Linked DNA regions of Homo sapiens. The protein of the gene in region 2 binds, or shares a complex with, the protein of the main gene of each other region. Each region holds a gene or a part of one and is shown on either strand. Other genes may lie near its edges.

Region 1 (7,822 bases), on a different chromosome or scaffold from region 2:
ATCAATTACAGTTTTTAGAGGGCTCAGGGATGGTGAGAGATCCTGAAAGAGCTGCCTATATTATAAATTATATACATTTTTTTTTAAGGAAAAGTGTGGAGGCTAGGGCAGGCAGGTTGTTAGGACTGAAGGTTTGCCCATTCTGCTGCCTCCATCTCAGCTCCAGCTCCATCCCCCTCTCCACAGAAAGCAGTTGGTGACACGAGGTTCTATACTTTTCTTCTGTTGCTCTCTTGACTTAACGTGAAAACAGGGTATATTTGAACAAACTGTCCCAGGCAGGGGCTGGGCAGGGCCTGTGTGCCTTGCTCAGCCTCCTGACAGGACACTTTTGTTGCACTTAGAATTTACATTTTAATGGATGTAAAAACAACTGTGAGAGATGTCTGGGCCTGCAGAAGTCCAGCATTGCTCAAAAAAGCGTGTGTTCTAGTGAACATTTTCATATATATTTATTGGTTATAGCCTGTTAAAATATTTTCTTTTTTGTATTATTTATCCCCCTACATTATGTATTTATATGAGGGAAAAAAAGGAAAAAATTGTACTTTTTTAGTATTTACCTGTTACAAAGGACATTGTGTTTCCTGTCATGTAAAACCAGCTATTTTAGTTACTATTGTACTCTAGAAAAGAGCTGTAGATTTATGTTAAACTCGTACTTACGAACAATTGTAATTAGTTCTAAAAGGCATGAACTCAGCTCCTAATCGTCACTGTATAGTCCTGAATTTGTAGAACTAGAGTTAATTCCCTCTTGGAACTTTCTTTGTTCTTCAGTAGTTACTTTTTTCCTTACCTAAAAGGGTTGTCTGTCAAACAATTCTTGAATAAACTTTCTGTTATCAATTTTATCTTGTCCTGGTGGTCCAATTTAGATAGCAGAGCAAGGCTGCTGACTGCCAAATTTCCCCCAAGGGAAGAAGGACAAGGACAAGGACACTGAAGACCCTTCCCTGGCCTTTTTGTCCACTGCCCAGGTTCCTGTCTCCCCCTTGATATGTCTTAAGTTTAAATACCATTTTCTCACTCATAAGAGCCTGTAACATTTTGCCAACTTCTTCAGCTGTGGTTTAAGTAGCAAGTTGGGAGGTAACGGGGGACTCTTGGATGCTCTCTGTAGGTTTTTCTGTTTGGCCTGTATGCCTCTAGGTTTTTCATTCATTGACCTTTCGTCTGTTAGCTCCTTTGGCCACAGCGTCCATGCACCCCCCACCCCCCACCCCTTCCCACCACCACCAAGAAAATCTGGCCGATTACGGTTTCTTCCACGAAACCTAAACTTCACAATCCTCTTCCGGAGCCACAAAGAAGGTGTCACGTGACCCGAAGCCCAACCACCATTGGGTCTAAAATGAAAACAAAGAAAAATGATTAATCTAAAAAAAAAAAAAAAACAAAACTGAGGCCTAGACTTCTCAGGTCAAACTTTAAAACTAAGTAAAATTAAATCACTAAATAAAACTCGAGGCGGAGGGAGGGGAAGCACGTTCGATTTCCCCTGCCAGAGAAAGGGGAGAGGAGGGTGGGAGAAGCTGTTGGATCCAAGCGTAAATAAAACGGTCCCCAGGCTAATGTGCGGCTCTGTTTCCATCATCCTTGGGAAAACTTCATTTCTTAGTTGTGGTTCCATAAAAGTTTTATCACATTGGAGTGAAAATAGAGAAGGTCTGTCAAAGATGAAATGTCACCGCCGAGTCGCTGGAGCCGATAAGAGCGAGAAGACAGGGCGGCTGAAATATGGAGCTAATTCGTTGAAAGAGAAGCGATGGCTGCTTGCTGAAGAGCTGCATAATTCTAATTGTAAGCGATGTGCCCGCATTGCTTAATTAGGAGCATATATTTGGTGGTAGTGATGTTGGGGGAGTGAGAATCGTTCCAGGCCCTGCCTTAAAGAGAGGGCTGATTTTCATTTTTATGTTGCATCCTGGCAGTCCAAGGTTAGTAATTATAGTCTTTATGCAACAATAAATAACAATAAAAAAGCAACCTGAACTCTACGCCCTCCCCCTTCCCCACCACCAAGTAGGATTTTAACTGGACTCATCCAAGCAGCAAGCAATTTAGCATTGGGTCAGGCTATAATTTAAAGGCATAAGAGCGTGCAAAGTTTGATTGGGATCAAATAACGCTCAAGGGTTTTTCTTTCTTTCTCTTTCTCTCTTCTTCCTTGAATAACATTTTCTGAATGATATAACTAGATGAAGCACCATGTTTGGCTCTGGGGCTGGGTTGGGTTGTTATTTATCTAGCAGGAAAGAGGCCAAGAAAGAGAATTTAGCTTAAGTTTGAAAAACAGAGCTTTGGCTCGAAGCTGGAATTGCAAACAAGAAAAATAAGAACCAACTTGGCTTGGTGTTCCCTATCCTTCTCTTTGGAAGATTCCAGGCGCTCAGCTAAAGCAGCCAAAGACGTGGGTAAAATATCCGTGCTGTTAAATTCACAGCAGGACAGGGGGGCGGGGGAGGGATGTCTCTGAAAAGGAGGGTTCTCTGGGCCCCTTTTAACACCCAAGTTTTCCGCTGTTTGCTAATCTGGCCATAAAATCTGTCAGTGAGGGTTAGAGAGAGCTGTATTTCCTGCAGGGACAGTCTGCCCGAGTTGCCTGAGATAAGCTCTGGATCCTTCAGCCAGCTACAGAAGCTGTTGCTAAACTTTCAGAGGTGTTCAAGGGGGTGGCCAGAGGGAGAACCCACTCTCAGGCCTCCCTGCATGACTTCCAGACAGCTACTATTTGGATTATTCTATGCCCACCCCCATCCACACCTCTAAATGGCAAAAATTGTTTTCTTTGGAGCCTAGTTGCACACTACTGTCGCTGGCCACTTTGCCCAGGTCAGAGCAGCTCTCTCTGTTCTGAGCCCTCCAGAGCATGCCTCCTCGGTCCCTGCAGCCCCCACCTCCAACTCCCCTTTCTCCATCCTCCTCTCCCCCACCCTCATGCTTCTACTCAGACTTCTCTGTCCTTCTTTTTAAGTACTCACGCAGATGTTACACTGACAGAAAGTTTCTAGTTCCAGCTCCGGGCTCAGTTGCCATTTCTCTGCTAACCAGCCTTCTCCTCCTGGCTGGGCAGCAGAGAGAGAGGAGGGGGAGGGGAGGCCAAAGCCATGGGAGTTCTCCAGGCAAACTTTCCACCCAACTTAGCGCTTTCCCTCTGTCCCCATTTCCCATCTGTTTCCCAGCTCTCCCAGAATCACCCTTCTCTTTTGCACCCCCACCCCCACCCCCAGGCCTTTTTAAGGGATGTGAAATTTTGGCTGTTCGCTCTGCTTTCCCAAAGAGCCAAATTCTTTGATGCAATCGGAGGGAGCTGTCAGGGGGCTAAGATTGATCGCCTCATCTCCTCTCCATCCGTCTGACCCACTTATTTAAAAATCTTCCCCCAGATCGACTTTTCATTTTCTGCTTTGAGGCCTAGTTTCCCACCAATTGCTTGGGGCTCAGAGTCTTGTGCCCTCTCCCCATAGTAAATTACAACACTCTAAACTTCAGACTATCTTGGTCTCCTCAAAATAAAATAAATTTTAAAAACATTTTCCCCCAGCAGCCAGAAATGGAATATCATCTCAGTGGTCATTATTTCCACCCCTACCATCTTCAGGGAATTCTTCCTTGTCAGGGATTCTTTTTTTTTTTTTTTTCTTTTTTCTTTTTTAACTAGCACAATGGCAAAAATGGGAGGGAAAGTCTCTTTGTCCTAGGGGAAAATCTCCCCACCACACTCATGCACACACATAACGCTGATCTGAACTTTGAGAGTGCTCTAAGTTAAACCAATGGCTACCTCAGTTCTTGTTCATGTCCCTGGATATGGATACAGATACAAGCTTGAGGCTTGAGTGGGTACATGCACATCTTAGACTCTGCCTGTTTTTGGGGGATGTCACAGAGAAGCATGGAAGCCTGAAAGTGAGGAAAGCAGGGGTACATAAGGGGCAGAGGCAGTGCTGCAAACACTGGGCAGAGAAGAGAACCCAGACCATACAGCGATGGAGGCCAGAGGCCCAAAAATGCCCCTTATGCTCCATCTCACTCCTATGTGTCTGCCTGGGAGTTCCTGTCCATTTCCCAAGATTTAACTGTTGTTTTTGGAGGGTAACAGGGATAGTGGTGTGATGATTGTAAATCTCTTTCTTATTTTCACCTTAATACTGACCTTTTTCAAAGAGTGGAAGCCTCTTTCGACTCCCTCTTCCTCCAACGCGGAGATCCTCACTCATCTTTTCCTGGGGAAGGGGAGAAGGGAAGGGGATGCTGCTGGCCACGTAAAGAAGGCCTTAATTTACTCTATTAAAATACTTGGAAAAGAGGAAGGTTTCTCCCTTAGAGTCTCTTCTTTTCCAGGCTTCTGAAACCTTCTAACCTTCGAAGGGGATGAGGAAAAGGTTCCTCTAGCTTTTCTGGAGAAACGGAGGCATTGGGGAGAGAGCATGTGAGGCACTGGTGTAGGAATGGGGGCTCATGGTGTCCTGGTCGTGGTCCTCTGGTGTTTTTGAATCAATTAAACCAAATAATGCTCTCTGTTTTCCACCAGGCCCAGACGAGCGATTGGCGGAGGCCGGTCCCGTGACCACGAATTCCCTGTAATTTCGCTGGAGTCCTGGGTTTAATAGAGAGAGTCCCCATACGCTTGTATTTATCAGCAATATACAATTATAAAGGCCCAAAATTAAAAAAAAGAGAGACCGAAATCTCCCCCTCCCAAAATCGCTCCATTACATAAATCGGGGGGGGTGCAGGAGGGGGGTCCCTTCCGATCCTCCCTCCTGACGCCCCCCCCAGCAGCCCCCTCCCCCACCATTGAAAGCCATGAATTTTGAATTTGAGAGGGAGATTGGGTTTATAAACAGCCAGCCGTCGCTCGCCGAGTGTCTGACTTCCTTCCCCGCTGTCTTGGAGACATTTCAAACTTCATCAATCAAGGAGTCGACATTAATTCCTCCTCCTCCTCCTTTCGAGCAAACCTTCCCCAGCCTCCAGCCCGGCGCCTCCACCCTTCAGAGACCCAGGAGCCAAAAGCGAGCCGAAGATGGGCCTGCTCTGCCGCCGCCACCGCCGCCGCCACTCCCCGCTGCCCCCCCGGCCCCCGAGTTCCCTTGGATGAAAGAGAAGAAATCCGCCAAGAAACCCAGCCAATCCGCCACGTCTCCTTCTCCGGCCGCCTCCGCCGTTCCGGCCTCCGGGGTCGGATCGCCTGCAGGTCGGTAAGCGTGGTGGGGGTGGGGTGAGGGGCAGCTAGAAGAGGGGGAGAAAAAGCAGTGGAAGGAGGTTTAAAAAAAATGGTGGCGAGCCTGTTGGGGTTCCTTACCCCCTCCATTCCTGGGATGGGGAAGTAGAATATCCCACTGGGGTTCAGGCCTGGCCGCTAACAGCGTCTTTTTTTTTTTCTGTCTCTCTCTCTCTTTCTCTCCCTATGGCTGATTTTGGAAGCTGGTTGGGGAAACGCCTTTTTTTCTGCTAGAAGAAAATGATTTGATTGAGGTTTTCACCCGTATCTGTGTAGGGGAATGAGTATGTTGTTGCTGGGATAGACCCTAGAAGCAGAAAAGATTCGGTCCTTTCTGCCCCAACTCTAGGAGAAGAGGAAGAATTCAGAGCTAGGGAGGAAGAGGGGTGAAGAACAATCTTTCTGACCCTCGCTCCGGTTGAGTTGGAAAGTTCCGAATTGAGGGGTCCACTGGGAGGGCTTGGGAGGGGGATCTGAGGTTCCGGCGCCGAAGGGAGCCGCTCTCCGCCCCCTGCGTGGCCCGTGGGCGGCTCTGAATGCTTTGCCCTGACCCGGGCCGGGGCTGTAGACTAGAGAGGGAGAGAAGAAAACCCAAAAGCAGTAAAGCGAGCGGCTTTGGGGTGGGGGCGGGGGTGGGGTGGCGAGGAAGGGGAGAGGTGATACTGGTTTTGGAGGATGGGGTAGTCCGAACTGAGGTTGGGCTGAGTACACGGCCCGCTATGACGCCGAGCCTGTTTTCCCTGCAGATGGCCTGGGACTGCCGGAGGCTGGTGGCGGCGGGGCGCGCAGGCTGCGCACGGCTTACACCAACACGCAGCTGCTGGAACTGGAGAAGGAATTCCACTTTAATAAGTACCTGTGCCGGCCACGCCGCGTCGAGATCGCGGCCTTGCTGGACCTCACCGAAAGGCAGGTCAAAGTCTGGTTTCAGAACCGGCGCATGAAGCACAAGCGGCAGACGCAGCACCGAGAGCCGCCGGATGGGGAGCCTGCCTGCCCGGGAGCCCTGGAGGACATCTGCGACCCTGCCGAGGAACCCGCGGCCAGCCCGGGCGGCCCCTCCGCCTCGCGGGCGGCGTGGGAAGCCTGCTGTCACCCGCCGGAGGTGGTGCCGGGGGCCTTAAGCGCGGACCCCCGGCCTTTAGCCGTTCGCTTAGAGGGCGCAGGCGCGTCGAGTCCCGGCTGCGCGCTGCGCGGGGCCGGCGGGCTGGAGCCCGGGCCATTGCCAGAAGACGTCTTCTCGGGGCGCCAGGATTCACCTTTCCTTCCCGACCTCAACTTCTTCGCGGCCGACTCCTGTCTCCAGCTATCCGGAGGCCTCTCCCCTAGCCTACAGGGTTCTCTCGACAGCCCGGTCCCTTTTTCCGAGGAAGAGCTGGATTTTTTCACCAGTACGCTCTGTGCCATCGACCTGCAGTTTCCCTAACCTGTTTCCTCCTCCCGGTCCTTTCGACCCCCGCGCTCCTTGGCCGTCTACTGGAAAAATCGAGCCTCTCCCACCCTCAGTCGCATAGACTTATGTGTTTTGCTAAAATTCAGGTATTACTGAATTAGCGTTTAATCCACTCCCTTTCTTCTTCTTCTAAAATATTGGGCACTCGGTTATCTTTTAAAATTCACACAGAAAAATTCCGTTTGGTAGACTCCTTCCAATGAAATCTCAGGAATAATTAAACTCTAGGGGGACTTTCTTAAAAATAACTAGAGGGACCTATTTTCCTCTTTTTTATGTTTTAGACTGTAGATTATTTATTAAAATTCTTTAATAATAGGAAAAGGGGAAAGTATTTATTGTACATTATTTTCATAGATTAAATAAATGTCTTTATAATACCAAAACGAGTGTTTGTGTTGGGACCTAAACTCTTTCCCCGCGGCCCCAAGGCCGGTCCTCACCCCTCCAGGACCTGTGCGAAGTTGATTAGGTTCAGCGGCCCATATGGCAGCAAAGCCTCCAGGGCCGGCGAAGTCCGGGTGGTACAAAGGTGACCCGATTGATGGCCGCTTCGCCCACGGCTCCGGCAAAAGTCGGGAGTTTGCAGGAAGCTGGGTCACCTCCCCGCCCCTCAGCAGAGGGTCTTTGGTCCTGAGCGGGTGGTTCTGGGGCCTCTGCTTGGAAATAGAGATGGGCAGGTCGAGGGAGAGAGTGTACAGCGAACAGAGGAGGGTGAAAGGAGAGGAAGCCTGTGGACAGTCTTCAGGGTCGTGGCGGGGGCAGAAGTTTACTGGAATTGGGAACAATCCAAGGGCTTCCTAGGCTTTTGCTTCTTATGACCGAAGCCGGTGTAGGACCTTTTTCCGAACTCAAGAAGCCTAGGGACGCGAGGCCTGGGGCTTGAGCCGGGCCTCTTTGGGAGCTGTAGGTGGCTCTCCAAGGAGTGGAGTGGGGTCGGGGATTTTCTCGGGAAGCAGGGTCCCGCACCCAGGGATGGTAACTGGCTTCCCAGTGGGCAAGAAAAGAGGCCAGCTGAGAAATGTGGCGCTGCCGGGACACCCATGGACTCGGGCTGCTGGGGTTTGGGAGACCATCCAAGCAGCAGCCGGGCGAGAAGCCCAGGGTGGCCCGGCAGCGTCGCGAGGCGCTGGACCTGC
Region 2 (8,442 bases):
CATTATCTTTAAATTTGGGAACAAAACCAGGTTTGTACTTCTAACAAACCATGAAAAAAACAAATGTTTTAACCTTGGGGCTTCATTGTTTTGACATGACACGTTACCTTCCTTCCCCCAATATACCTTTAACTGTTTCTGCAGGATATTGGAAAGTAGATTTGCAAATTATATAGAAATCCTGACAAAATTTTATTCTGAAGCTGATACTCTGGCTAAGTGAAGAAACCAAATATGTCTTACTATTCCAAGCATTATTTCATGTACAAGATTAAAGAGAGAAGAGCTGCTTAGCCCTTATAAAATGAACAGAAAATTTTCCAATTCTTTTATTTCATATTGTCTCTTAAATGCAATGGGGAGAACCACCCATTTTTGAAAGAGTTCTTCCAAAAGTTAAAAAAATTAGTTGAAAATTGATGTTCTGTTATTTAGGGGGGAAAGACACCTTAAGAGTTTTCTAATGATTTATAAATTTCTTCTATCACTAACAATTTTTATTCCCCAAGAAATTTGATAATTACAGAATTTGATACTCTTTTCCTTGGCATGCTGTGATGGACTTTCGCAATGTTGAAAATTAGTTAATATATTTCAAATCTTGTCTATGGTTTTTAAAGTTCAAAATTTAAACCTGTTACCCAGTGGTATAATACAGCAAGATAGTATTTAGAATCATTTGTGATAATCAGTGAGGTTCTCTGAAAATGGTAAATTGAAAGGGTCACGTAGTGTCATGTACTTTGATAAGTCAGAGTTTAAGGAATAATTTTAAACATTGCCTGTGAAAATACAGCATAAACCTTAGGTGATGCTTTAGTAATAACCTTTGTTCTAATATGTTAAAATTCATTTTCTGGTATTTTCTTTGAAAGTTCTACTTCTCTAGAAATGGCTTTGTATCTTTACATATTGGGCTGTAGGCATTACACTGCCTTTGTCTAGGCAGCTTGGGAACTATACAGTTCAGTGCTGTTGCATTATAAGGATTTCGTTTATTCTTAACTTCCCTGGATCGTCTCTCTGTGAAAGATTTCATGGCAAGTTAAGCTACTCAAAGGAAGGAGACCAATTAGGCAGTTTCAGTTTATGTTATATGTAAAGCAGATGCTTAATAAAATTAAGAATACAATTGAGGCTCTCTTCTCTACCACTTCAGTTGTAACTAATATATTCCTATGCAGAATTAATGCCTCTGACTGTTCATTTTCTAAACAGAGTGGAGAAGAAAAGGGAAGGATCACTGCTGGCCAGGCAAAGCAAGGCAGCAGGCTCACCCTGTGCCTTTCATTTCTTGCAGGGCTTGCTTTCAGAAATCCTCCGAAAGGAAGAGGACCCCAAGACTGCATCCCAGTCTTTGCTGGTAAACCTTCGGGCTATGCAGAATTTCTTGCAGTTACCGGAAGCTGAAAGAGACCGAATATACCAGGACGAAAGGGAAAGGAGCTTGAATGCTGCCTCGGCCATGGGTCCTGCCCCCCTCATCAGCACACCACCCAGCCGTCCTCCCCAGGTGCGGTCTCCTTTTCCTCCTTGCCCTTCTTTGTTTAGCTTTTTTTTAATGCTTGAGGAAGAATCTCAATAAGAAATTAGATAGATAGATACATAGATTTATATGTTTTTAAATTCGTATAGTTGCTTGAGGAGAATTTGGTCCCAAATCATTAATTCTGATATAAAAACAATAAGCTCCTAATTAGATAGAGGGAAGAAAATTGCTTTGTGTTCCTTCATTCTTTGGGTTATTTGGGGGTGAAAGTAGTCTTTAAATGGGATATTTGTCTCTACTGTTGTTATTAAGTAAAGTATTTTAAACTCAATAGAAAAAGAATAAAGTCAGTTTTTTCCCAACTGGTTTCAGAATCGCCATTTGAATAGTAAATAAATAAAAATAAATAATTTCATTTGTATTTATACTTTCCAGTACGAACTGCAGCTGGTACCAATTACACACCATCTCATTTGTAATCTTTCATAATTAAGTTTAATAAAATCCTTGAAGGCAGCTTTAAATGGGGCTGATAAGGAATTCTATCCATACTCCAAGATACGGGCATGTTTTCTCTTTCTTAAAATTTTTGGACTTTTTAGGAAAGAAAGTTGCCTTCCGGGTAACTTTGGGTATGTGAATCTGTATTGTTTTTTAAACTAAGTTTTAAAAGTAACCTCATAACTGTTATAATTCAGTAAATCAATTTGCATTACAAACCCTTAGATAAAAGTTTGCTAGTTAGTGTATTAGACTCAAAAACCACAAGCAAATATATTATCTTTTTTTTTTTTTCTTTTGAGATGGAGTGCCGCTCTGTCACCCAGGCTGGAGTGCAGTGGCACGATCTTCACTCACTGCAAGCTCTGCCTCCCGGGTTCACGCCATTCTCCTGCCTCAGCCTCCCAAGTAGCTGAGACTACAGGCATCTGCCACCACGCCCAGCTAATTTTTTTGTGTTTTTAGTAGAGACGGGGTTTCACCGTGTTAGTCAGGATGGTCTCCATCTCCTGACCTCATGATCCTCCCACCTCGGCCTCCCAAAGTGCTGGGATTACAGGCCTGAGCCACCGCGCCCGGCTGCAAATGTGTTTTCTTACATGTTTAACTTGTGACATTTACAGCTCTTAAAAATAAGGTCAGTTAAAATTGGATAAAAATTGAACATGGAAGAAAAAGTCGAAATATTCATATGACAATCTCATAGTGAAATTGTATCTCGATTTTACTTCATTCTCATCAATGGTAGAAAGTGGTTATACATTTTCATGTATAGAAATCTAGAAAAAACTCATTCAACACTAAAGAGTGAAAGTACTACGGATACTGCATAAATAAGAAATATTTAGCCACTTGTTGAGTAGCTAAATAAACTGCTTATCATAAGGTTCTGAAACTATTACTTTTTAGAAATGTCACAAAATCCATTTTCACTAGTTTATTTAATGAAAATCAATCTGGTCTTGATGTCTATAGGAACAGACTATAAGGAAATCATTGCTATAATTGTGAATAAAAAAGTCATGCTTCTTTAGGAGAAAAGCATGGCATCTATATACGTATGTACACACCCACCTGCCCACGCACACAAAGTTATTGAATTTGATCTCTAAATGCTTCTATAAAATATTTCCTAAGATAAAGAATGAGGAACTCTTTATGTATAAAAAATATGACTTCTAAGTATGGTTAAAGAGAAAAGATAAACTATGACTTCTAGGAATGATAAAAAAGAAAAAATATACGAAATGAAATAAAATAATTTGGTTTGGTACTTTTTCTGTAGTGTTTAGTGTTAATACACACACTTTTATTAGTTAACTTTGCTCCTGAAGTCACCACTGACAGGGCTCTGAGCAGAGAATTACTTTACTTATCACTTAATCTGCAATACTAATAAAAGAATGGCTTACTTAAGACCAATATGAACTTCAACATTGAACTGCTTTAAAAAAAAAAAAAAACATCTAGCCAGATATTTGACTTTGTGGTTCCTTAATACAGCTTTTGTTTTCTAATTTTTCTAGGACTCTGGTTTTATTTATTTTCCAAATGTGATTTGGGTGTCCTTACTCATCAAGCTTTTTCTTGAGCTAAAGTTATACCAATTCTTATTAAGTGATATTTCTTTTCATATGCTGTTAAGATACTATAGGATAACTTTCCTGTATGTATGCTTAAAGGCTTTATCTGCTGATAAGTTGGGATAGAATATATGTTTAATTTATTTTTGCCTGAATTATTGGTTAACTGGTTGTGCCACCCTTAGCTGTATTTGTTTGTTCTGAAGAGGAGCTGAGACCAAGCCCATAGCTAGGGTATTCAGCCAATGATGAAAATATACAGTATATACATACTGTAGATTCTTAGTGAAACTCTTTCAAATAAAACATTTCTATTACTGCAGTATTACTGGCCATCTAACCAAACTCCAAAATGACTAACTGATATGTGTATGTGTGTGTAATTTTATTTTGCTGCTGCAATATAAATCTTTAAATTATTAATATTATTATAATGGAGATCACTACCAGTTTGTTCACATTCTTCCCTTTAACCATGATTAAATGAATTAAATTTTAAGAAATCTTAAGGTATTAAAGGTATTATCAATGCAAAATTAGTACTTTAGATTTGGAAAAACACGTTATAGAGCACTTGAATTAGTGCTGTCTTGTAGCAGTTGAAATAATGAAATGATGCTTAAACTGGAACCAGTATGCATATTAAAAATGAGTTAAAATAAAGGATAAAATGGAGAAAACCACAGATAACACAGACTGCAAAATTTTGTCTTTTTAAATTTTACATTTTGCCAAAGAGGAGTCCATGTGAAATCAGTATACATTTCATTTCCCCCAAAATGAGGAGATTTGAAACATATTTTGAGACAAATCTTGGGTTTGGGTTGCACCTGAAACCTGATTTCTTTCTAAAGAACCACATGTTAAAAGCAGAGGCCCTCAGTGGTTCACAGAAAACCCAGCCCCCATTAAGGCCTGGGAAACTGGATTCTCTTCCACCTCTTTATAGAGTGTAAAACATGCAGAAGATGATTTTGGAGTGCCCTTGGGACATACCATAACAAGGACCTAAACTATTGAAGGACTTGAATTCTAAGTCATCTTCAAGAAAGGACTTCCTGGCTAGTCAGACCCCACCTGGGGACACCTAGCCTCAGGAAACACCAGAGCTCCTTGGTGGCCCAGTCCAGGTGAGATGCCTCCCTGCAGAGGTATCCCATGTGCTCCAGTAGGGACAGTTATGCCCTGTGCTTCATCCTCTGCCTGGGCTATAGGCTCTGGGCCAGACCTGGTTGCTGCAAACATTTTCACAACTTACATGCTCTAATTCAACAAATAAGAATATCTTGCACCTGATAATGATTCACACCCTAACTTGATAAAAGCTATTCTGAAAGCAGCTGAATACATTAATTCATTGAATCCTCATACCAACCTTTCCCTAGAAGAAAAATGAGAAAACCAAGTTTAAGGTTGAGTCAGAGTTTTCAAATCCTCTGCTAAGTCTCTTGCTCCTTCCTCTACTTCAAGCCACCTCCTCAGAATAAAAGCAAACTTATTTTAGAAAGGGAAAAGTGAAACTTGGAGATCTTTTTGTTTGTCATAGAGGATGGGAGGTTTTCTTGTTAGAATGGGAAGAGGAGCATGTGCTAAAGCATTGTCCTAATGAAATAACTTGTTTGACAAATTATCCAGTTGGGAAAACTAGACAATGGCATTTCTGGGATTGTGGGGAGAACAGCCCCTTTTAAACTTTGGTCTCATGAAAATATCTGGGAGAACCCAGTCCTCCCAGCTTCCTTGGTCTTAAGGTTTCTTTTCACTATAAGCTTTGCAGATTTTCCTGATGAGTTTATTAGAGGAATTTTTATGAACAATAATAATTCATGATTATTATCTGAGAATTGTATATTTTACAGAATTTTAAGTGATGATTTCTACCGTAAGGGTATACTTTTTAAAATTTGATTTGTGCATTTTATGGTGTGTGACTTTTGGAGTTAAATTAATTTAGCAGTTTGTTTCCATGAAGACTGTTTGAAAGCATATAATTACTGAGTTACAGCTTTTACATGAATTACACAAAAGTCTTTTTTTCTTCATTTTTTACATCTCTTTATGTAATTCTTCATTTTTTACATCTCTTTATGTAATTACCTAAAGAATTACTAAAGGTATGCTATTTCATAACAATGCTTTAGAAAATTTATGAAGTTAATATAAACAGTATATGATTAATCTGGTAGTTGCACTATTTTGTCTCTTTACAAGAAATCCCTCTACGATATAATGAAACATAGGTTCATCTTGATTTCAGGTTCAGTTACAGGCAGGAACTTAACACTTGGTAAAAGTTTTATTTCTTATGAATCCCTTGAAGATCATTTTAAGATGTTGCTTATGTGGTTATAAAATGCATCCCATTAATTGTCGTCTTTTAAAAGCTGGAAGACTTTTAAAGGCTAGATTTGGAAAATAATACTGTTCCTGGAAGGAAAGAAATATCTAAAAATATGAAACCATGGTGCTAAAGACAGTGTTAATATATTAAAATTTGAGAGTGGGAAATATTTTCCATCACTAATAAGCATCCATAAAAGAGGACATTTCTTATTTTCATTAATAAGAAAATATAATTTTTATACCCTGAAAAATAAATTTAGATTGGATTTTAATCAAAAATCAATAGCTATTAAAAAATTAGACATTAATGAGCTAGATTTATCAAAGGGCCACCAAAAAACAAGTCCAGCCTGCTCTAAAAATTAAGAATTTTTTCAAGTAAAGAAGGTGCAGGTAATGTCATGAACTCTAAATAACTTTGGGTTTCTAGTTAAGTTTAGATCTCAGCATTGCTCCACCAACAAATTGTTTAACCTGTTTGTTTTAACGGAGTTTTCTCAATTTTAAAATGGGACAATCATAATACCTCCTCCGGGCTGTTAGGCAAGTTAAGAAGTTAATATACATTAATACAATGTCCAGCACATAATAAACAACTAATAAATGTCAGTGTTTATTATCACAATTATTAAAACTACATATAACTTTAATTTTGCTTGTGTAAAAGCAGTGTGCTTGCAGGCAATTCTTCATGCATCAGAGTAGGATGTTCACCAATCAAGGCTGAAATAGAGTTCATTTCGTGTAAAATCTAAAAGCATGATTCAATGCATACAGCAATCCATGAAGAAGCAAAATAGAGTTTTTATGGAAAATGTGTGTCCTGCGGCACAATTTTAGTGAAATAAAAAGCAGACTCTAGTGCTGCACCCTATCCCCACATGGGAGGGTAAGTAGTAGAAGCTCCAATTCTTAACTACTTCCCCGGCGCCGCCTTAATAATGGAGTAGTACACCCTACCTTGATAAAAGCTATTCTGAAAGCAACTGCATTTATTTTACCTCCTGTGCTATTTGCGGAGAAGAGCTGAACAGTAGTTTGTTTTGCCTGGAATGAACTACTTTATGAATTTTAATGTGTGATATAATATTAAAAGCTAAACCAGGATTAAAGAAGATTTTTTTGTACTAAGCTAAAATAGTACTTAGTAGAGTGAGGTATAAAAGATTTTTGTTTCCATTTTTACCTGGGGAAAAATTCAGCTTTCATATTTTTGAAAAGCTGTCCAAGTCAGTTTCCCTTAAGCAATAGCTTGTGTTTAGGAAAAAAAAAAATGTGATTCTAGAATTCTAATAGCTTATCTATGATAAGATGTGTATCTGGGCCAACAAAATGGTAAAGAAGAGCTTTCCTAAATATTTTTTAAATGAGTAGTACAGAGATACTTTCTAACTTTGTAATTGTTAAAGTTTCACCCTCACATTCTTTTTTTAAAAAAAAATATTTCTTGTATACTTTTTTCACTTTTGTTTTGATTGTGTTGGCTACTAGGAAATGATTTTTTAAAATAATTTAGAATTTGTGCTTGATTATAATTGCTTTAAAATAAAAAAAAAAATTAACCAAAGAAGTTTTTAGAAACAAAGTCACAGGGTTGAAACAAATGATTATAGCGCACCTCAAAGATAAATTCTTAAACATCATTTTTACAAAATAATGAAAATTACTTTAAAAACAGATCGAAACACCAACTTTCCAAAGTCTGTTCTTTTAACTATTGCTTAGCAGATTGCTACCAAGGATCTGTTTCTTCAGTGCACTGGACTTGGTGCCCCCATTTCCATAACATTCAGTTTTCAAAATGATTGAAATGGCTTTTCTTTTCTCTTTCATTTAAGCAGTGAGAAAAATAGGTATTAAAAGGGACCCCATGGGGTGATCAAATCTATCCCTCTGCCTCAAAGCAAGACCACCCCAGAGCAAAGTTTCCAATCTCACCAAAGCAACTTTGTAGGCAATTTATGGTAATGTGTTGTTAACTCTTCTGGCTCTTAAAGTGGTGTTTAACAGATTATTGCTTCAAAGCCCTGTATGTGTTCTAGTGGCCTCCAGTCATTAATATATCTCTATGAGTGCCCTTGCTTACTAGAGTGGCAAAGCTAGAAGGGGAACTCTGGAGAGGAGGCGGATGAGGCCCCACCTTTGGTCACCTGTCCTGCCTTACCTGCTGTGTCCCCTTCAGGCCTGCGGGCCAACTATTTCCCAGCATTATCTTTTCCATGCTTGGAAAGGTGGTATCATGGTGAAAGCATCTACCAGCTTTCTCAAGATAAGCAAGAGGTGAATTATTTTGCTAATTGGCTAGAAATTAGGATTCAGCAGGCACATTTTAAAGGGATCTCCTATTTATGCTTTAAGTACGGAGAATTGAATCACTGAATATTTTAGGAACAGAGTAAAATAAATCTTAAAGTCCTGCAGCTTGACTCAAAGGCTATATCATTTAATGCCAAAAAAATCATTTGTTTATTCTACAGCATACTTCATTTTCTATTTTCATGGTTTATGTGAGAAATTGTCCAGGAT

The links.
Region 1: SATB1 (region 2) and HOXB2 share a complex: the UniProt entries of both Homo sapiens proteins name them as parts of the nuclear protein complex.

The regions. Positions count from the first base shown.
Region 1 is NC_000017.11:48,541,902-48,549,723, reverse strand, and holds HOXB2 (homeobox protein Hox-B2), read left to right. Parts: upstream 1-4,614; 5' UTR 4,615-4,812; coding exon 4,813-5,203; exon of another isoform or gene 5,204-5,766; coding exon of another isoform or gene 5,767-5,830; intron 5,831-5,976; coding exon 5,977-6,656; 3' UTR 6,657-7,069; downstream 7,070-7,822. UniProt on the Homo sapiens protein: Sequence-specific transcription factor which is part of a developmental regulatory system that provides cells with specific positional identities on the anterior-posterior axis.
Region 2 is NC_000003.12:18,379,470-18,387,911, reverse strand, and holds part of SATB1 (DNA-binding protein SATB1), read left to right. Parts: intron 1-1,300; coding exon 1,301-1,513; intron 1,514-8,442. UniProt on the Homo sapiens protein: Crucial silencing factor contributing to the initiation of X inactivation mediated by Xist RNA that occurs during embryogenesis and in lymphoma.